Regions from separate parts of the Homo sapiens genome. Here region 1 is linked to region 2. A link means that fine-mapping ties the variant in region 2 to the expression of a gene that starts in the linked region. Tissue or cell type: nasal epithelium. Region 2 holds a variant in brackets; the other region holds the start of a gene. All regions are shown on one strand. Distances are between the middles of the regions. Region 1 holds the start of LPA (lipoprotein(a)). Region 2 holds the start of PLG (plasminogen).

The links. PIP is the estimated chance that this variant, and not a neighbour inherited with it, causes the effect.
Region 1: LPA starts here. The variant in region 2 is fine-mapped to the expression of LPA in nasal epithelium (TOPMed, PIP above 0.99).

What each region holds. Positions count from the first base shown.
Region 1 is chr6:160,658,744-160,670,475 of GRCh38, forward strand. LPA (lipoprotein(a)) reads right to left here and starts at 5,532. Exons shown (of 39, transcript NM_005577.4): 1 at 5,423-5,532. The coding sequence starts at 5,471.
Region 2 is chr6:160,691,060-160,702,791 of GRCh38, forward strand. PLG (plasminogen) reads left to right here and starts at 11,185. Exons shown (of 19, transcript NM_000301.5): 1 at 11,185-11,294. The coding sequence starts at 11,246. The variant CAGAAACT/C (reference allele first, on the strand shown) is at 6,055.

The DNA.
Region 1 (11,732 bases), 32 kb before region 2:
TCAGCCAACACCAGAAGTCCCAAAACCAATGAAAGAATTCCATCCTTAATATTCTGTTCCTCAAGAACCACTTCTGGTATGAAAATCTGTATTAGTCGGGGTTCTCTAGAGGGACAGAACTAATAGGAGATTATATATATATATATATGAGAGAGAGAGAGAGAGAGTATATGTATATATGTGTATATATAGTGAGTATACCTATATCTATCTATAGATATAGATATACTCACACAAAGGGGAGCTTATTAAGTGGTATTAACTCACAAGATTACAAGGTCCCATAATAGGCCACCTGCAATCTGAGGAGCAAGGAAGACAGTCCAAGTCCCACAGCTGAAGAACTTGGAGTCCGATGTTCAAGAGCAGGAAGGATCCAGCACAGGAGAAAGATGTAGGCTGGGAGGCTAAGCCAGTCTAGCCTTTTTACATTTTTCTGCCAGCTTTATATTCTGGCTCTACAGCTTGGGGGCAGCAGGGGCAGGGGCCTCAGGGTGCTTGCAGGGATGACACACTGGCCTCTTTTCCATAGGGTGGCTGGGGCACACTGGGGTGTGAGTAAAGCACTCAGGATCTTTTTTCCTTCCCTAGTCCAAGTACAGCAAGGGCAGTATGACTGCAGTGTTAGTGGCAGAAGGACTTTCAGTCACCTCTGGGAGCTTCACCCCACAAAAACACAGAGTGCAGCCAGTGGAAATGTTCAACTGAGTTCGAGGTGCCTGCACTGTGGGCCCAAGCCAGGAGCCTTGCCTGGTGAAGAGTAGCAGGTGAAAGCTCACAAGAAAGAGAAACTGGAATTCTTTCCCTGCTGTGTGCTGGAGGTGTCAGGGAAGTGGCCAGGTCCCTTCTTTCTCAAGCCCAAGGGCATTAACGGTGGTACTGCTGCAGCTGAAATGGCAGAGGGGCTGTGGGTTGTCTCTTGGATTTCCTCCCCAGAGAAGCACAGAGCCAACACTGACTAAAATGTTCAGGCAGGGCCAGGGTGGCTGTGCTCTGCCCAGTGAGGAATAGTAGGGGCAGGGACCAGTGCAGAAAACAGTGTGGCCACTTTTCCATAAGGCAGCTACACTGTGCTGGAGGTCCGTGAGAGTCCTGAAGCTCCTCGCTCCCTCCTGAGCCCATACTTTAATCTCAAGAGTTTGAGATAAACAGTGGTAAGGAAGAAAGTACAACGGGTACGGCTAATGAAACCCAGGAAGATAAGTCAATGCGTAGAAGTAATTCCAACCTAAAGAAATACTTTTTAAAAATCATATTTATAGAGGTTTGCAGTGATACTAAAGACAATATTGCAAATCATTATTAAGAATACAAGAAGTACAATGTTTCTTGTTTCTTTAACACCTGTGATACAGGTGTTTGATATGAATTCTACGTAATGGCTGCATTGCTTCTTGCCACCACCCAAAGAAGGTTGTATAGCACTCAGATGTATACTAACTGCAACCGTGTATCTCTTAGGAATTTCTCCTTTGCCCTCTTCCCTCCCTATCAGCATGTATCTAGCAGCATTCTGAAAAGTTAACTGCACAGTGAGCGACTGCTGGGCATCTTAAGGGGCATTCTTTTCTACCTAGGTATTCCCCCTCCTCCACTCATGTCTAGCATGCAGGACTTGGGTAATCTCTGGGGTTTCAGATTCTCCAGACCTCCATTCTCTCAGGGGCTTCCACCTCCTGCTCATATCTAGCTATCTGCCTAGTCTAACCATAAAATCTTAAATAAGAATAAATCATGTTTGCTCTTGATTGCCATGTCATGATAAAAAAAATAAGACACCATCAGTGGCAACTGTGTTGCCAAGATTGATGTTGATCTGCTAATCCCTGTGTAGAAATGAACCTTGGAGGCCATTGTTTGATTTCTTACAATATGTGCATTGGTTGTAACACTGTCACTTTGACAGTTGATAAGCATCTTCTGAATGGTCCCTCCTTTAGTTACAAAAATGTTGGTGCATGGATGATGTTGGGAATAAATAAAAAGTGAACTAAATTATGTTCTCATCTTGGGCAAAAATTAAGCAAAAAAAAAATGGAGGATATGAAGCTCCTCCACAAAGAAGGCCATTTTTGTACTAGGCTTACTACAGTGACACACCACTATTAGTTGGGGAGAATTCAGTTTTTCCAAGGTGTTGATAGGCATCCAGATTTCAGAGGAAATTGTAAAAAAGCAGAACCTGGGACCAATACTGCCCACGATTTTTCTTTGAGATCAAATCTGAGGCAACAAATCTGTTCAAAAGCTGCTTTCTGCCTGGTTGTGGCAAAGGGTGGCCAAGTGGGGCTCAGCTGTGTTCCCATTGCAAGGCTACTGAGCATCCCCTGTCCTGAGGCTCCTTAGGACACCTGGCTGAGCTTCAGCAGCCCTCTTCCAAGCCTGGAGATGCCAGCTCCATCTCTGGCACAAAATGTAGTGATTTTCACAGGGTGAGAGGCCAAAAGAGGCTAATAAAATGAAGATAGCCAAGCTTCCATGGAATTAAGCAACAGGACAACCTTGACCACTTTGAGGGGTGTGGTGGGGGCCACATGCAGATGGAGTGGGTTAAAGAGTGACTAGAAGAGCAGTGGGGGTGGCAGCAGGAGAGAAGCCTGGCTCTGAAAGCAGCGAGACTTCTAGGGAATACAGGGTCAGGGGAGGTTCTGAAAGATGACACACTGCAGAGAACATGTGTTTGTATGCCGATGACAAGTATCCAGTAGAAAGGCAGATGAACAGATTCTCATTCTCAGAAAGGCCTGTCCTGACCTCCTGAGAGTACACAGACCATGAGGGCAGGGCAAGGAGGAGGATGCACGCTCACTGTTTCATGCAAAGTCCTTGGCCACAGTCCACCTGCTCCCCACCTCTGTGACTTTGTCCTTCCTCAATTTAATATGCTCTATGCTGGAAAACTGGATTATTGAACAGGCATTGGCTGATGCATTCTGAACCTAATCCACTAAAAAGCACTTGATAGATATATCAAAATATCATTGAGAAATAGATATTTTAGGCCCATATCCATGTCTTCACCCCGCACTGTTTCTCATTTGAACTCTCTTTTCCAGGAAGAGTTGTGCTTGGGTAAATTCTATAGCTCACAGTGTGACTTCAAAACACACAATAAATTAATAAGGTGCTTCCTACAGTGAGTTCAGTTAAACATTTTGAAGAGTGTTTTTGAAATGTAGCAGAGCAGGCTACAATTGATATTCAAAAAGAGGAAACTTCCATTTATTTCCCCCTTTAACTAAGTTACCTGTAACTGTGTCATTTTATTATGCTTCATAGAGCATCACTGCTGAGATCCCCTCCCCAGCTCATGTTGCTAGGAAATATCCCAAAACAGAATCAATTTTTCTTTTTTTAACCTGATGATTTTTCCACAATCCTTTTGTTTCTCTGATTCACCTCCAGGGCTCATATGGCAATGGGGATTTAATAGGGTTTATTTGTTGGTGAAGAAACATTAAACAAATCTTTTAATAGGAAAAATACTTTTATATTATAGGCAAAATGTAGATGTATATTGCTACTGAAGTAAATGTATTTTATTAATGGTGTGAGAATTTCTTCCTCACTGTGGTGTGTGAATGTGTATGCATATTTGCATGTGTAAAAGACTTAGCAATTTGTGAATAGAAGATGTTTCTCCGCTTCTCACTGAGCATGGCTGTAAAAGAAACTTTTTCCTCTCCCCGGGCATTCCAGCACACATTGGAAAGATAACACGTCCACAGAAAGCCTGGCTTTCCAAAAGAGCTTATCAGAGAATGTGCCCCCCAGGTCGATTAAAACATATGTTAATCCTGTGGCAGAGAAGTTTGTTCTAGCCTTTGGGTGTAGCCTGCTGAATAAGTTCACAGTGATCTACATCCTAGTTTCCATGGGCTGAAATAGAATATTCATATCCCCTGCACTCCCTACACACACAGACATAGACACCAATTTCCCCAAAAAACTCTTTGCTTAATCTTCTCCTGCTCTGTATTTTCTTTGATATTTTCTTGAATGGCTTCCACTAAATTCAAATGTGTTTGACTTTAAAGTCAACTTGTAAAATTTTATCTGGTAATTTATAGATTAAATTGCAAGCATCTACCTCCCTTTCATCAGACTCTCCCTGCAGGGCAAGTTCATCTAACTATGTATGTGCTTCAAGATGGAACTCCTGAGTTCACAGGTGATTTATAAACCAAAGCATGCCCACTACAAAACTCTCACCCTCCAGAGATTTGCCTCAAGGGACAACACCCTGCTCACAAAGGCACCAGCAGGCAACTGCTCAACTACCTGGTGGATAAGGTGCCCAAGCTAGCATGGACCCCTGAATCCTTGCTCGCCTCCTCTGTTGCCTTTTAAAAGTGCCACTTTCTGCTCCTAAAGTGAAGTAGTACGGCAGGACTGCTGCATTTCTTCCCCTAAGCTAGCTTTGGAAGCAAATCACTTTCTTTATACCAGACTTCTCTCTTCTTAATTGGATTCTGCAAGTGGCAAACAATTAACCTGCTCTTCAGTTACATTGGAATGTGTTTAGATTTATTTTTTCAAATGTTGGAACAAAGATGAAAAAGTGAGAAGAGCCCTAGATTTTTTCTTGGAAATCTGGCTTAAATCCAGGTTTCTTTATTTCCTTGATTTGGGAATTTGGTCACGAGACAAATAACATGATTTTCCTAAGTCTAGATTTCTTTGTTTATAAAATGGGGATGACTATGCTACCCTACCTATACCATGAGCTAAATAAGCTAGTATTTGTAAAGGACACACACTTACATTCACAATCACACACGGTGTGTATGTGTGTATGTATGTATAAAAATGTGGGGACCTAACCCACTCAACAAATACCCTGAGTATTTGTTGAATCATTATATGCGTATATCATCTGGCAAATGGATGTGTATAATTTCTCCAGGGATAAGAAGCAAATGTATACCGATGGAAAGCCTTACTCAGGCCATAACAAAGAGAGAAATGCTGAGTCCCACTCCATGAACAGGTCAAGGAACCAAACATATTCAAAGAGTTATTTCATTGTTTCAACTTGCTAGTGAGGGGAGCATGGCACCTGAACAGAGATGATATAAATTAATGAAACTGAGAACCAAGCGAAGAGCTTAGCCATCCTTTGCATAGTTAGCTACAATGGCTATTTATTTTTCAGCCAGACTGGCCATCATGTAGGCACACTCTTTTAGATTAGAAAAATCAACCATTATTTTTTCTGCCCATTCATTCCAGCACCGTGACAGTCTTCACGGGGAAATTAAACTTATTTTTTTAAGAATTTTTCAATCATATACAAGATTTTGAACTGGGAATTTCATGAATCAAAAATTAAATGAATTGCACATAAAGCCATGGCATATGTATTTTTACTACATTGTGGGAGAAAAAATAATTCTTATAATTTAAAAAAACTATGTCTTACCTGATTTCAGAAATAAAAGAAGTAGAAGAACCACTTCCTTATGTTCCATTTTGGGACTGGCCAGCAGTGCCCAGAAAGTGTGTCCCAATCCCAGGACATTGTTGACTTACATGAGAGTAAACGCACCCACAAACCAGATAGTCAAATTAAGTTAATGATTCTCTCAGAGACCCATGCCACTGGCTCAGCAGGGTTCAAACATTACCTTGAATATAGAGTCTTATAAAATATTTGAGAGTGCAATGTCAATAGATGCTGGGAAGTGGTGAAAGCCATTTCCCCCCTCAGCTGCTCCACATTGCCTTTATGTCTCCTTACTCCTTCCCTCACCCCTAGACCTTCATCTTTCCTGATTAGTCTTGTTTCCTCCCCTCTTCTTTCATTCTCTTTCTTTTGGATAAAATAAAATCATAAAAGTAGCTCATATTTGCTGGTAACTTCCATGACCAGACCCTCTGCCAAGTGCTGCACATCCATAGCCTCCCTCAAGCTTTCCAACAGGCAGTGCTGTACGAGGAGGGGGCTGAGGCCTTCCCGAGGTTGTGTCGCTACCCAGGGGTGCAGCTGATAGACACAACCCTTTCAGGTCTTAGTTTACGAGCAAGCTAGGTATAAATGTTAACATCTCCACATCCTATACCAAACTGTGCCGAAATGACAACATAAGTGAAAATCTTTTATTATCTTCAAAATTTATTTATTCCTAGTGAACTCACATGTTTTCTGTAATTATAAATTATGTTATAAGATATCAATCCTTCCAGGAGGGGGTGGTGGCTCATGCCTATAATCCCAGCATTTTGGGAGGCCACGGCAGATGGATCACCTGAGGCCAGGAGTTTGAGACAAGCCTGGGCAACATGCCAAAACCCTGTCTCTACAAAAAATACAAAAATTAGCTGGGTGTGGAGGCACATGCCAGTCATCCCAGCTACTAAGTAGGCTGAGGCACTAGAATTGCTTGAACACAGGAGATGGAGGTTGCAGTGAGCCAAGAATGTGCCACTGCACTCCAGCCTGGGTGACAGAGCAAGAATGTCTCAGGAAAGAAAAAAAAATAATAAATACCAAATAAAATTAATAAAATATCAATCCTTCCTATTCTAGTAGTTGTGGCTTAAATAAATAAATAAATATTTTTAAAAATAAAACATAGGGTCGAGTGCGGTGGCTCAACTCTGTAATCCCAGCACTTTGGGAGGCCAAGACAGGTGGATCACAAGGTCAGGAGTTTGAGACCAGCCAGGCCAATGTGGTGAAACCCCATCTCTACTAAAAATACAAAAATTAGCCAGGCGTGGTGGTGGGCACCTGTAATCCCAGCTACTAGGGAGGCTGGAGTATTCACTTGAACCCAGGAGGTGGAAGTTGCAGTGAGCCAAAATCACGTCAGTGCACTTCAACCGGGGTGAGAGTCTCAATAAAATAAAATAAAATAAAATAAAATAAAATAAAATAAAATAAAAGCATAGTATCAATCTTTCCGCAAATGAATTCATGGTGCAATCTTACATTTTCGTTCTCATGAAGTAAAGCAAGAGTGGTAGAATTAAGTGGAAAGAGTCTATCTCTAGTGTAGTCACGTCAGTGGTTGTGTCAAGATGGTTAGGAGGCTCCTCCCGTTTAAAACAGTATCCAAGCCCCAGTTGTAAATCAATTGGGGAGACACGCCAACTCTGATCATCAGCAATATCTGAGCTCCAGTCTCAGATATTGTGTGCAGTTAGTCTCTGTCCTGTACCCTCTACCTCCTTCCCTACCAGAAAAATCACCACTTTAGTCCCTGGCCACCGGGACACCCCAGGAGGGTGAGTGGTCTGAGGTAGTTATGGCACTTATGGCTCCCTTGCTGCTGATCTGGAACTCAAGCCCCAAGAAGTCCCCTTGGATGATCTGAATATACATTTGGGACAGATCTAGGGAGTTTCTGAGCAACACTTAGACTGGGGTCTTCCATTGATTAAATCCTACTTGAATTCGCTACTTTGGGACTCAAGTCTAAGGGACTGAGACTGAGACAGGAGAGCACAAGACTAACTTTGGTCTCTTGATCTTTTCTTACCTTGCAACTGTCAATGCCTCCAGCCAAATGCCCAGCACAGAGCTCAGTGGATTTGACTCTTCCATTCAGAAACTCATAGCGATTGCACACTTCATTCTCAATCACAGGGAGCTGGGCTTCCTTGAGAAAGCCAGCCCCAAAGGTACCTGTGTTTAAAAAGATGAAAGAAATGGTAACTACGTCCACAACATGTTCACAAGGAAACTCCAGAAGAACAGAGCAGTGGTGATGGACCTCCTGTCTGTCCGTGAGGCTGTAGAACACAAGGCAGCTCCCAATGCTGCCAGACTCTCTGAACCCTGGAGAGTGTAAACGTCATATAAGAGTCTATGTTCCAAAAACCTGGATTTAACAATCTGAGCTTTGTCATGGTGCTTTGCGGTTGGTTGTTGTTTCTTTACCTTTTTCTTTGCTTTTAAAACCATAAAGAATAATGTTTAAATGTAGAGTCTGAGAAATGCAATTGCTATTGTTTTTATATTTTCAGACTTTTTGTATGCTTCTTTCACTAATTACATCATATCACAAAATTTCACACCCTGATTTTTTCACTCAACATTACATAATGAGTTTTGTATAGTGCTATGATCTTCATAACTAATATTTTAAAGGAGAGCTACTGATTAATGAGCATGAGGTTTCCTTTGGGGATGAGGAAAATATTCTGGAAATATGATGATGGTTGCACACCACTGTGAATGTACTAAATGCCACTTGGTGGTACCCTGCAAAAATGGTTAAAATAGTAACTCTTACGCTGTGTACATTTTATTGCAATAAAAAAGAATAGTCATCATTTACTAAGCATTATCCTTTCCAGGCACAAGCTTATAATGTGGTGTATCTCACTTCATCCTCACAACAGTCCTATGAAACAGGCAGTTCCATCACTCCTGCTCTACAGTTAAGGAAACTGAGGTGTAAGGAGGTTGTCTAGTTCAACCTGAGCCTGGGTCTGCGGAGTCACTGCCCAAATGCTTCCTCCCCGTGCGCGTTGGCCCCCCTCTTGCTTCCAACCCTCCACATCTTTGTTCATAAAGTTCATTCTTATTCCTTAATATTTTCTGAGCCTAAGTTCCCATAAATTATATAGACATATTTCTGTCTCCCAATAACACTGCCAATTTATTTTCTAGAAGGTTATGACAGTGTAAAATGTCACTAGAAAACAATCACTTCACCACACTTGTATGAGTGTTCAATTTTTAAATATTAGCTAATCTAACAGGTTGAAATTGTCCTGATTCATTTTCTAATTTATACTTCTTTGACAATTTGGGAGAGTGAAGATTCTCCTGGTTGTGTTTATTCTTTTGTGAAAAACTGCTTTATTTTCTTTGCCAAATTCAAATAGAACGGTTGCAAAATTGCCAGAGGAAATGCTGTTTTTCCAGATGGACACACCCAGGGATGTTTCAGTGTTCTCACAAATAATCCAGTTTTCTAATTTTGCAAGCCCAGCTTTCATTAGAATTTTGCAAAAATCCTTGCTTTGCGAGCATGGCACAGGCAAGAGATGAGGCACTCTCTCTTTCTTCCCCCAGAGCCTTTGACTGCACTTAGATCATTGACTTTGGTTCAGAAACCTGACTGCATCTGGAGTTGACATGAGCAGCATGGAAGATGTTTGTCCCAGCACCTCACTCCAGAGGCCAGCTCAGCTCAATCTGGGCAGAGCTGCATGATGGAAGTTTCTGACTACCAAGCATCGGGCAGAGGGTGCATCACCTGGACTACATAGTTGTGTGAGGGAGCACCGTTCTCTAGAATCTGCTATTTGAGCAAGGCAAACATCCTGATAATGGTGAAAACCTACCGCAAGTTGCCAGGAAAGTTGATGTGGTCTGCGAGTAGGTGCTGCCATCCAGTGGCCGACATAGAGATGTCATCTCTGAGGGCAGGTAGGCCACAGGTGACAAGAGGATTGAAGCCCTCCCTGATGGGGCCTTGGGGAGAGGGCAGCAGGGTAAGTCCAGCGGCAGGATCAGTCCATTGATTGTGGATGACGACTGACCTGGAAAATCCCCTTGGCCTCAACACCTCCAAACTCTGCATTTGATCCAAGTCAGGGAACACCTGGAAACATGAAGGGGAGAGCAGGAAAACTTTGACCTCCCTCTCAGAGGCTGAGAACGCCAATTGACCTGATGTCATTATTGACATGTAGAAAATTGATGAACAGGCCTGAGTTATGTTTTGTGGCACCTCATGGTCTAGTTAGTGTTCTGAGAATCATTTTCTCAGTGGACCTGCAGGTGAGACCAGGCGAGGCAGAAGCCTAGTGGGGGATGGTGGTTAGAAATGTGTGGATGGTTGTGGGGCAGAAGAAACAGCAAGTAGGCTCTGGGCCAGCTACAAACTGGTTATATGATGTCTACTGATGATGATAGTGATGGTGGTGGTGGTGGTGATGGTGGTGGTGGTAATAATTGTGATGGTGGTGGAATGATGATGATGGTGGTGGTGGGTAGTAATGATGGTGTTGGTGATGGTGGTAGTGGTCGTGGTGATGGTGATAGTGATAGTGATGGTGGTGGTAATGATAATGCTAATGGTGGTGGTAATGATAATGATTATCATGATGATAGCGGTGGTGATGGTGATGGTGATGATAATGGTGATGGTGGTAGAATGATGATGATGGTGATGGTGGTGGTGGTGGTAGTAATGATGATGGTGGTGGTGATGATGTTGAGGGTGATGATAATAGTGACAGTGGTGGTGGTAATGATAATGGTGATGGTGGAATGATGGTGATGGTGGTGGAATGATGATGGTGGTGCTGAGTAGTAATGATGGTGATGGTGGTGGTGGCTGTGGTGATGATGGTGGTGGTAGTGGTAGTAACGATGATGGTGGTGGTGATGATAGTGATGATGGTGATGATGTTGAGGGTGATGATAATAGTGATAGCGGTGGTGGTAATGATAATGGTGATGGTGGCGGTGGTGATGATGTTGATGAAGATGATAATGGGAGTGGTGGTGGCAATGTGGATGGTGATGATGATGTTGACGATGATGATGCTCATCACAATCACCTTATATGTTAGTACAGGTAAGAAAGCCAAGGCTAAAAGAGATTAAATAACTGCCCAATGTCACATGGAAGATGGTAGAGCCAGAATTCACACCCAGATCCTTATGATTTTAGCTTGGTGCTTTCATCAGTTGAGGTATTGGAGAGGATCTGTTTGCTTTCTGGCTGCCCAGCAGTCTATCACCCTACATCCCATAATCCTGTTGAGGGATCCACCCTTTGCCCTTCTGGGTATGAGTGGGGTCCTGCCTCCACCTCTAGCATGTAATAGCTGATGCAGGTTGGAGCCAATCAGTGATGGGTTCAGGGACAGGCCTGTGACCCAAGTTCAACCTCTCAGACCTGGCCAACTATTGTTCACTTAATGGGGACAGTGGCCTTCCTCAGTCTTTCCTGGCAAAGCAAGAGCTGCCACAGCATCTGCCACCACAAGAATCTCACCTTTGTGCCCAAGGATGATGCCTACTGCATGGCTGGACAGGGCCTGGGCCCTGGGGCCATCATGTGAGCCTAAAGACTTTTCAGCTCAACAAGAATTCCCCTTTTTTGCTTAATCCATCTTAAGTTGGATTTTCTGTCACTTGCAAGAAAGAGTCATGTTAGATACAACTCTATTCTGTATATTAGTAGGAGCTGCCATGATGGAGTGCGTAGCACGTGCTCGACACTTGATGCACATTCTTATTGTTTCTCCCCCGACAACCCTGCAGCCCCCATTTCATATAAGAAAACAATCAATGAGAGTTCATGACTTTTCTAAGTCCCGACAGCCAGTAAGTGGGAACCAGGGTTCCAATTCAGGTCTCCCTGTGCCATCCTGCACCTTCTCTGAGCCTCAGGTTCCTCACTTGTAAAATAGGAACAATAATATCTAAGTCTTAGAGGTTTGCAGCATTTAAATTTTTATAAGTGCAAAACACTGGGAGCAGCCTGGCACACCCAAAGGTGTTCCTCTTTTGCCAAGTTTCCTTTTAGTTGGCCTCAGTGTTCCCAGACTCAGGAGTGCAGAAAGGGGGATCAAGAAACCAAGGAGGATGACATTTTAAAAATAGTAGAAAAAGCACAGAAAAAGGAAAGCAAACTTTGCAATTATCTAGACCAGTGGTTTTTAACCTTTTTGTTAAACAAAAAACAAACAAACAAAAACCTTTCTTCAAATGACAGCTTATGCAAAAGGCTGATGTGGAAAACACCACTTGAAAATGCTGG
Region 2 (11,732 bases):
GACACATTTCTTCAGAGTTATCCTAATATGCTGTTTCCATTTTGTTTCCCACTGACTCTTCAGCCGTGATGCTGTGGTCTGAATGTGTTCCTCAATATCACATCTTACAAACCTTTTTTTTTTTTTTTTTTTTTTTTTTGAGGCCGGGTCTCACTCTATCGCCCAGGCTGGAGTGCAGTGGTGCGATCTCGACTCACTGCAGCCTCGACCTCCTGGTCTCAGGTGATCCTCCCACCTCAGCCTCCCAAATAGCTGGGACTACAGGTGTGTGCTACCATACTTGGCTAATTTTTGATTTTTGGCGGAGACAGGGTTTCCCCATGTTGCCTGCTCTGGTCTCAAATTCCTGAGATCAAGGGATCCACTGCTTTGGCCTCCCAAAGTGCTGGGATTACAGGCATGAGCCGCTGCCTCGGCCCAACATGTTGCAAACTTAATCCCTCACGAAACAGTGTTGGGAGATGGGGACTTTTGGGAATTTAGGCCGATTAATGCTGTTTTAAAGGGAACTTGTGGGAGTGGGTTCAGGCTCTTTCACTGTCCTGCTGTGTGAAGACACAATGTTCATCCTCTCCTACCCTCTGCCTTCTGCCATGTGAGGACACTGTAATAATTGGCACCTTGATCGGGGGCTTTGAAGCCTTCAGAACTGTGAGATGATATATTTCTGTCCTGTATGGGTTACCCAGGCTGTCATCTGGGTAATCCATCAAAGACTGTGACACTTTGTTACCGCAGCACAAGTGGGCTGAGACATATGGCGTGATTTCTCTTCCCACCCCTCTACTGACTGTCATCGCCAAACTCAGTGAGCATTTTTTAGTCCTTATCTTTCTAAAAGGACATCTTGATAGAGCGGGGACTGGAGCTCAGACAGTGCTGGTGATTAGGGTTGGGGTGTCTCCCCAGTTGATTTACAGTTGAGGCTTGGACACTGTTTTAAACTTGGGAGGAGTCTCCTAACCATCTAAACACAACCCTGATTCACCTGGTGGGCCAGAGCAGTCTGCCTGGAAGAAAAATACTGAGAAGCCAGCACTCTCATGACTATTGAGGTGCAGGGATATAAAATCTTGTACAAATTGCGATGGCTCTGGGCCAAGATCAATTTGTTAGAAACAGCCAGGCTTCCTGAGAGAATGTTCCATTAAGGGGAAAAGGAGTTTGGCTGGGCTTGACCAGGCAGTTCTCTCCCTTGGGGTCTCTCGTGAGGTTACTGTCAGATGGTGGTACAGCCACAGAAGTGGCTCCATACCACATGGCTGGCTGTGCCAAGCACTTAGCGGTCTCCCCCAACACCGTGATGTCGGGTTGGAGGGACTACTGGTTTGAGATAGAAAGTGGGACGAATGCTAAAACTCCATTTTAACCCTGCCACCACAGCACCAAAAAGCACATCTTTCAGCATGCTTTGTGGAAGAAGGATTGCATGTTTATGGCAATTAAAGATTGCAACACTTTTGATTCCCATAAAACTGTGTCTGGTTACACCTCTGACTGAACACAAGGGGGGGCTATCCTCTGAAATAGCAGAAACCTAACTTTCTGTGTGCAATGACAGCCAGAGCTTATTCCTCAGGTACCACCTGCCATAAATATACAAGTCCCTTTACCTAACAAAGACACAGTGATATTGGGGGTTCAGGCCACCACTAGTGGAGGGGGAGGAGACTAACCTTTGGCTCAACCTTCAGTGGAAGCAGATGTGCTTGAAGCTATTTGGGCAACAGAGTTCAAGGATTTGACCTGTGTCAACATGGGAGAGGGAAAGATTATAGCGGGACACTTTTGGCAAGCTCTGGAAGGAGACGAATTATGGAACATGCGCAAATAGAGACCGATGCACAGAAAAGCTAATAACATTCAGGCTCAGGGCTCCTTCCTTGCATGAGTCCCATGGCAGATTGTATTTTCCAAGATGGCAGCCACAAGACTCCAGCCACATGTACTCTTCTTACAGGATGAGGCCAATAGTCCTCCCATGGAAAGGTGGGGTCTATATGTCCTTCCCTAGAATCTGGGGAGACTTGTGACTCTCATGCAGATGATGCTGGAGTATTTCCAGGCTAGACTGTAAAGGAGAAATAACTTCTGCCTGATTCTGTTGGAAGCCAGTTGCAGGCTTCTAGGAAGCCCAGACACATGGAGAAGTTCTGAGTGTTTTGGCCGATAGTCACAGATGAGATTCCAGCAACAGCTGGGATCACCCATGAGATGTGCGTGAGGAAGGCTTTGAGATGGTTTCAGCCCTAGCCACCACTGACCTAAGAGACCACAAGAAAGAGAATCACCTGGCCAAACCCAGCAGACCTTCAGAATTCAGAAATAAAATAATTCGTCTTATTTTAAGCCACTGTGTTTTGGTTTGATTCATCCCATAGCAAAAGACAACTTCAACAGGCCCTTTCTGAGGCTCTGGAGGGGCCCTGGCAATGTATCCATTTGGTCATTTGCTTTTGTCAAAAGCAGACATTTTAGCTGTAATTGGCTAAAATTCTGATCTCTTTCTGCCCTCATGTTGGGTGGTGGTGGAGTGGATGTGGGCATTTTGAGGATCCAGCAAAAGAAGAATTGAGTTGAGTCATTGAGTTTGGGTTCCATGGGATTTATTTATGTGGTATGGAGTCATTTCTGTGTATGTTATTGCTAGCTGTCCCTGTGTAAAACAGATTTCAGAATAGTCTTCACCTCCCTTGTGCTGACTTACCTAGAGGTGTAATGTAAATATGCAAGACCATAGATTACATCACGATTGTGTCACAAGACATGTGCGTTTGCAGGAACATGGATGGAGCTGGAGGCCATTATTCTTAGCAAACTAACACAGGAACAGAAAACCAAATATCGCATGTTCTCACTTATAAGTAGGAGCTAAATGATGAGAACACATGGACACGTCGAGGGGAACAACACACACTGGGGCCTATCAGAGGTTGGAGGATGGGAAGAGAGAGAGCGTCAGGAAAAATAACTAATGAGTACTAGGTTTAATACCTGGGTGATGAAATAATCTGCACAACAAACCCCCATGACACATGTTTACCTATGTAACAACCCTGCACTTTTATCCCTGAACTTAAAATAAAAGTTGAATAAGAAAAATAGAAATGTACAAAGCTAGAAAAGAGTGTAGCTCATCCCATCTGGGAATTAAACCAAATCTTACAGCTCATACATAAAAATAGTTTGATAAAGATTTTCCTAAGTGTGCCAAGAATCCTGAAAACTAATCTTCCATTATCGATCATGAGCTATGAAGCCAGAAGAAAAATTTAAATCTATCAATAATAAAATACTAGAGCCAAAATAGTTTATTATTCTCTTCTCTCATAGAATATGATATTACAACATTATTGAAGAGGCAATCAAAGCATACACAGGCAAAAATGTTGGTAAAGGAGTATTACAGCAATAGGTCAGGAATTTGTTTAATTAAAATTGCTATTTTACTGAGTTTTATATATATTTAGTGGTAGCAGTAGCCAGAGTAGACTTTGCTGGAGTCTGGGCCATTGAGATTGGTATTATTAAGGTTATGTTGGCCTCATTTGCTCTTACCTTCTGGCATACACAGGATACATCTCACTTGATTTCTCACAAGTCTTTGGTACCCATGACCACTCCCACCTTTTTACAATTTTCACTTTTGCTGGCTTCTCTGGACTCACGCTGTCAATTTTCCCCTCTGGCTAACTGTTCTCAGTCATCTCTACAGAATTCTCTCCTTCTGGGTCTTTATGTTGTTGAGGACTTTATCCTAGGGCTTCTTTTTCTCTCTCTGAGCAAGCTTGTCCACCCCCATTGCTTCAATCCCACCTATCTGCTGACAACTGCTGATTCCACATCTCCAGCTCAGACCTCTTTCCTAGGCTCTACACCAGGAATTGGCAAACTTTTTCTGTAAAGCGATGATAACAAATATTTTATCAGCTTGCTGCTCATTGTACTGTCTCTGTCACATCTGCTCAACTCTGCTAAGGTAGTGCAAATATAGCCACAGAAAATGGTAAAAGAATGGGTGTGGCCATGTTCCAATAAACTTGATTTATAAAAATAAGCCTGCTTCATGGGCTATAATTTGCCAACTCCTGTTCTAAACCAGAATATTCAACTCCCTTCTGGAAATTTCCACTTGGGTTTTCTCAAGTTCCTAAACATAACATTGTCCCCAGGCAATTTCATCTTATTCCCTCCTATGTGTTCCTTCTTAATGAATGATCCACTATCCACCAGATGTCCAAGACAGAAATTCAGGCAGCATACTTGATTTCATTCCCCACATTCAGTCAGTCACAAAATCATGTCAATTCTACTTTCTCAACATCCCCCTAATCCATTCTTTTTTCTCTTTCTCCACTGCCTTCTTTCACCCCCTCTCATCTCTCACCTCCTATGACCTCCTCACTACACTGCAATCAGAGAGATCAAGCCACCCTTGGATTTTAAAAGCCTTCAGTAACAGTAGTCCCTGCCTTTCTTTGGCTGAAGTCTAAACTTCTTGAAACAGAGTGAGAAGCCTGCACAATTGGACCATTTCCCCATGTTAGCCAAATTCCTCTCATCTGCCTGCTCCTCCCGCCTCTGGGACCCTGCACATATATTTCTTCTGCTTAAAGAATGTGTAGCAGGTGAAGCAACTATCTGAGGCCAGTATCCCATGGGCAGTAAGAAGAATTTACCAAGACAGTTGTAGATAAAGAAAGGCAGATTTATTAAAGAAAGCATGAAAATATGTTGCAAGGCAGCAAGGGGCAGGCCAGCAAGAGAGGAGCTGAATGCCAAGAGACAAAGGCTTGCTGGGGGTTTTATAGGATGTTGCTTGTGCTGCGTGCTGAAGAGGGCTTAGTGCAGTACTGATAACACCAAGGTTGCAGTGGGATAACCTGCATTTTTCTATCAGCTGAGGGCCTGGTGATAGCTGGGCACAGGAAGATTGTGAGTTATTTGTGCAGGAGGGCTATGGTCCTGGACCATGAAGAAAGGCAAACTTATAGCTTATCTGCTTTCTCTTTCTTTTTTCCTCAGTGTCACCAGCCTGATTCCTTTTGCCTAATTAGGACTTCACAGAATTATTCTCCTTTCTCATCCTTCCAGCTGTCTTCTAAGTCTCAACTTGGATGTCACTTCCTCTGGGAAATGTCTCCTCACCTCTCAAGACTGTCTCTCTGTGCACCACTACAGCAAATGGGACCTGGGCCACTTCACTTTTACAATTCCAGTTTACAGACCTGCATTGCCCCAACCCCGTTAGACCAAAGACTCCCTGAGGGCAAAGATGGCCTCTTATTTACTCTTGATTCCCTAGCACCCAGCACAGCACTAAGCATTGTACCCACTGAAAGAACATCTGAAGGATGAGCGTTTATAGCAAAAGTGGTTTCCACTGACGTTCCCTTCTCTCTTCCCCAACTTTGGATTGAGGAGCCCAGGAGCTGGTCAGGTGGCAAGATAAGATGAGAACGGAGAAGTCATTACTTGGGGCCTCTGTTTTGCTGGTGTTTTGCTGGTGTGTGGAGATGGTGGGTTTCCCTTGAATACCTGGGAGGCAGGAGCAGGCATGAACTACTCCAGCCTCTGGGTTCTGGATCCACATGGGGTGCTGCTGCTCTCTGGCACCCATCAGTCCTTAACCATCTGGTCTCCAGCCAGGGAAGGAGCGTGGTGGTGGAGAAGCCTCTCTGTCCCACCCACTCATCCCAGGAGCTCACGAGAATCAGCCAAAGTCCGAGTTCTGCACCCTGAGTTAGGAACTCTATAACTTTAGACTTTCCCTGAGCTTTGGGAGTTCTCTTAACTAGTGTGAAAGCAGTTACATCATCCTGGGTCCTCCTAAAATAGACACATGTATCCAAATATAGGCACATGTATTGCAAACATAACATGTATGTATATATGTAAATATATACATATAATTTTTGTTTTGAATTAAGTATAAACACAACAAGTTACAAATATAGTACTGAGAGGTCCTTGTATGGCCCCGCCTCCCTCAGGCAGTATCTTACATAACTATAGTTCATGATTACAACTGGAAAGTTGCCATTGGCACCACAT[CAGAAACT/C]AGTCTGCAGACCTTGCTCAGATTTCACCAGGTTTTTTGTGCACTCATTTGCTTTCCTGAAAATATTTTAATGTTTTTCTACATGACTTATCTCCCCGACATACTGTGAGATAAGGTTTTTTTTTCTCCGAATAAGCTTAGAGAACAATGAATGTGAGAGGTGGGAAGGATGATTTGGTGCATCTCTGTTTTATCCATGGTGAGTCTGGACCTCAGAGCAGAAGGACCCTCGTCTCTCCTCTGGGGAGTCCTGGTGCCAACTCAGTGCAGGCTGCTAAGTTATCCGGGTCTGACTGTCTTCTTCTCTGCTAAAATTTGTCTTAAGCATGTAACACAGCCATGCTTATTAATGATGAGGAGACAGCCAATGAAAATTAATTTTTTCAAAGATGAATAGATATCTAGATTTTTTCAAGCACAACTCATTTAAGAAAATATCACCTCACTGAGCCCCAAATGAGTTAGGTCTCACTTAGAAAGTGTCCCCTAGTGCCAGGTAAAGTGCCTCATATTTGCAATCCCAGCACTTCTGGAGACGGAGATAGGAGGATCTCATGAGCCCAGGAGTTCAAGACCAGCCTGGGTAACATGGCAAAACCCTGTCTCTACAGAAAATACAAAAAAAAAAAAAATAGCTGGGCGTGGTGGCGTGCACCTGTGGTCCCAGCTACTCTGGAGTCTGAGGTGGGAGAATCGCTTGAATCCAGGAGGTTAAGGCTACAGTGAGCTGTGTTTGCACCACCGCACTCCAGCCTGGGTGACAGAGCCAGCCTCTGTTTCCAAAAAAAAAAAAGAAAGAAAGGAAAAGAAAATGCCCCCGAGTTGATTACATTTTAACCACTGTGCTAACTTGAGAGATAGTCTGCTATCTCTTTACAGGACATGAGGGCTGATAATCACCTCATTGCATGGTCCTGGGGACTGATGAACAAAGGCTAACATGTGGAAAAGGGCAACTAAAGAAAGAAGAGCCACCTCCAGGTTAATTAGTACAAGTCTCCTCGCTGGTATGCCCTAATACACTAAAACAGCAGTAAAAACAATCTGCACATTGGCATCGAAGGCACAGATAAACTTGCCGAGGACCCTTACCACGGCAGAGGGATGCTTTATATGAGTCCTTAGTAGATTAATTAAGTTCTTGCTAGTTCCATTTGGAAATGATGCTGTCCTCTTGGGGCTATGCAGAGAAGTTCATGTTGATGAAATGAGCTGTCCTAGAATGGCAGTTCCCGGGCAGCAGAGCCTGGGCTCAAGGAAGGTTGAAAGAAGGGGTGGCGTGGAGCTGCCAGGTGCAAATGTCAGGCCAGCAATGCAGTCCAGCTTGCATGGACGTGCTTCGCCTAGGAAGTTGTGACTTGGCTGCATTTTCCACTTCAGGTGAGATGGAAGGTTGAACTCTACCTCACCTCCTGGTGAGGTTGATGTTTCCTGGTGTTTATAACTTTCTTTGTAAATACTTGAAAGGAATTTACCATTTTAATGCTGGAAGAGACGTCTATTCCTTCTTAAGAGGACCTGAGTGGATCTTGATTGCAGGCCTTATGCTGGGCAGAGCTAAGGAGAATTCAATTTGTCTCCAATCTTATTTGAATGTTCTTTTTTTTTTTTTTTTTTTTTTTTTTTTTGAGACAGAGTCTTGCTCTCTCACCCAGGCTGGAGTGCAATGGCACGATCTCGGCTCACTGCAACCTCTGCCTGCTGGGTTCAAGCAATTCTCCCACCTCAGCCTCCCCAGTATCTGGGACGACAGGAGCATGCCACCATGCCCTGCTAATTTTTGGTATTTTTAGTAGAGATGGGGTTTCACCATGCTGGCCAGGCTGGTCTCAAACTCCTGACCTCGTGATCCACCTGCCTTGGCCTCCCAAAGTACTGGGATTACAGGCATGAGCCACCGCGCCCAGCCTATTTGAACGTTCCTATGCCTGCTACAAGTGCAGCAGCAGAATCTCCACACATCTTGCGTGCGAAAGTTTCCTGTAGTTCCTTTAGCATAGAGAGGCTGGGGAAGGTTAGAGACTGACTTGTACTCTTTAGACATATAGTTGATCATTGAACAACACACGTCTGAACTGTTACACACAGATTTTTTTCAATAAATGTGTTAGAAAATGTTTTGGAGTTTTGCAACAATTTGAAAAAACTCAAAGACAAACCATCCAGCTAGAAATATCAACAAAAATAGAAAAAGTTAAGTATGTCATGAATGCATAAAATATATGTAGATACCTAGTCTATTTTATTCTTTACTACCATAAAATATAACAAAACTATTGCAAAAGTTAAAATTTAGTAAAAATTGTGTACACACTCACAGATCGTATATGGTGCTATTCTCAGTTGAGAGAAGTGTATACAAACATCAAGATGCAGTATTAAATTGTAACTGCATAAATTTAACCGTAGTGCATACCACACTATGGTAATAATTTCATATCCTCCTCCTGTTGCTGTTGCAATGAGCAAAGGTGTTGCGAGTATCCACTTAAAACGTTCTGTGATACTCAACATTCCATCATGAGCAGTTCATCCCCAGTGAATTGCGCATCACAGTAAAAAGTGCTCTCTCCCTGTTCGCATGTATTTTTCGTCCTGTTTCGTGCTGTACTGTAAACCTTGAATAACACCATGGGATCCAATATGAAGTGGCACTAGTGATGCTGGAAGTGCTCCCAAGAAGCAGAGAAAAGTCATGACATTTGACATTACAAGAAAAACTGGATTTGCTTGATATGTAACAGAGACTGAGGTCTGTAGCTGGGGTTGCTTCCATTTCAGACAGATGATTCATCTTGTAAACAGGTGGTGTAAACTTACTGTATGGAAAAATACATAACAGTACCACAGATGTATTTTCTCCTTACGAACATTTCCTTTTCTCTAGCTTACTTTATTGTAAGAATACAGTATATCATACATATAACATACAAAATACATGTTATTAACTGTTGCTGGTCAACAGCAGGCTGTTAGTAGTTAAGTTTTTGAGAGTCAGAGTTATACCTGGATTTTCTACTGTGTATGGTCAGTGTGCCAACCCCTGAAATTGATCAAGGGTCAACTGTAATCCTAAAAGAATCTAATACAATATTGTAAACAGTAAGTGGTCAATAAATAAGGAATTGAACTAATAAGAATACATAAATCCCAGAATATGTGCAACCTGATCATAGTACACAGAGATCTCTCTATATATCTCTTTTCTTAGTTCATGCTGTTCTTTCAGGTAGAAAGCGCCTTATTTTGAATTAGTTGTCTTTAGAGCAAAAATCCCTCCAAGAGTGCTGTGTGGTTTCCTATGCACAACCTGGAATAGTCCATTGCTTCATGCCTACCCTGGACATGAAGGGCCATGCCGCAGCGGAAGTCTCTATGCACCCACCCCCGTCTATACCTGAGCAACACATTCCTCTTTGCTGCTCTCTTACAGGCTACAGAGTGCGGTGGCGCCAGCACAGAGCTCTGCTCAACGTCCCTCTGTGCTTTCACGATGCTGATGGATTATGAAGGTAGGGAAGAATGTACAGCCAGGAGGCCATTAGGAGGGCAACTAATTTATAAAATCACATTTGTAGAATTTAATGCATCCAACAACTACCAGGGGAAAGGTGGGCAAAAGCTATACCAACACCACCCAAGTCAAAACCAAAACAACAGGAAAAGAAAATTATGTGGATGTAGAATTTCTGATAACATCATTCCCAAGGTGCCTTATCCAAGAGGAACTGCTACAATAATATTTTAAGTGGAAATAAATACATGCTGGAAGCATTATATATTAGTAGAGTATTTTTTTTTCCCAGAGTACTTTCTCAAGCACATCAACATGAGCCCCCTAAGAGACATTTCACATTAAAAATAAAATGTCTGCCCACTGCTGGTTTCTCAATCTGCCTCCACCTTCTGTCCCCTTTAATGAACTGGGCCATGAGGTGAGTCAGAGAGGATAAAGGGAGTGGTAAGAATTTGAGGAGAGAAGAGAGTGAGGCTAAAATAGGAAATCAGGAAAAGCGATTCGGTCCCCCTGTCCCTCACATGGGGCCACCCTCTTGTTGCCCAGTGTGGCTTCTTCTTGAGGGTTCTGCATGGTTCCTCAATCCCAGGGAATTCCGCAGGACATTCCACCCAAGACCATTGGGCTCCCACCTCTACTCTTTTGCCAGTTAATGAATAGGCAGGAATTTCACTGCCTGGAAAGAGGAACAATGCTTTCTGGTCCTTATTTCACATCTAAAATAGAGAGGTCAATTGATTTATTCCTAAATATCTTTGAACACTAAAATAGAAGTTTTACAGCATATATACTACCTGGTTGCTCTAGACTTAAGCCAGGGAAAAGTACAGATTCAACATTTAAAATTGAGATAGACGCTTTCCACTTAATGCTACCAGTCTTGCTTTATTTCATGAGAATGAGAATATAATAATATGGCATACGTTCATTTGGGGGAAAGATTGATGTCTTATAACATAATTTATAATTACAGAAAACATGTGAGTTCACTGGGAATAAATAAATTTTGAAGATAATAAGATACTTTCACTTATGTCGTAATTTCTATGTCATTTGGTGTAGGATGTAGAGATATTAACGTTTACACCTAACTTAAGTTTGTCATCTAAGACCTGAAGGGGTTTTGTCTATCAGCTGCACCCCTGGGTAGAGACACAACCTTGGGGAAGGCCTCAGCCCCATCCCTCGTACAGCAGGAATGAGAACAGCCCTGCCTGTTGGGAAGCTTGAGGGAGGCTATGGACGTGCAGCGCTTGGCAGAGGGTCTCGTCATGGAAGGTTCCAGCAAATGTGAGATACTTTTATGATTTCATTTTCTCCAAAAGAAAGGGAATAAGAGAAGAGGGGAGGAAATAAGACTAATTGCGAGAGATAAAGTACAAGGGTGAGGGAAGGAATAAGGAGACATGACGGCAGCGTGGAGCAGCCGAGGGGGGAGATTGCTTTCACCACTTCCCAGCATCTATTGCAGATTCCACCCTCAAACATGTTGTAAGGACTCTTTATTCAAGGTAATGTTTGAACCCTGCTGAGCCAGTGGCATGGGTCTCTGAGAGAATCATTAACTTAATTTGACTATCTGGTTTGTGGATGCGTTTACTCTCATGTAAGTCAACAACATCCTGGGATTGGGACCCACTTTCTGGGCACTGCTGGCCAGTCCCAAAATGGAACATAAGGAAGTGGTTCTTCTACTTCTTTTATTTCTGAAATCAGGTAAGACATAGTTTTTTTAAATTATAAGAATTATTTTTTCTCCCACAATGTAGTAAAAATACATATGCCATGGCTTTATGTGCAATTCATTTAATTTTTGATTCATGAAACTTCCAGTTGAAAATCTTGTATAAGATTGAGGAATTCTTCAAGAAATAAGTTTAAGTTTCCTGTGAAGATTGTCAGGGTGCTGGAATGAATGGGCAGAGAAAATAATGGGTGATTTTTCAAATCTAAATGAGTGCACCCACATAATGGCCAGTCTAATTGAAAAAGAGCCAATGTAGCTAATTATGCAAAGGACGGCTAAGCTCTTTGCCTGGTTCTCAGTTTGACTAATTTATATCATCTCTGTTACGGTGTCATGCTCCCCTCACTTGCAAGTTAAAACAGTGAAATATCTCTTTGAATATATTCCGTTCTCTCACCAGTTCATGG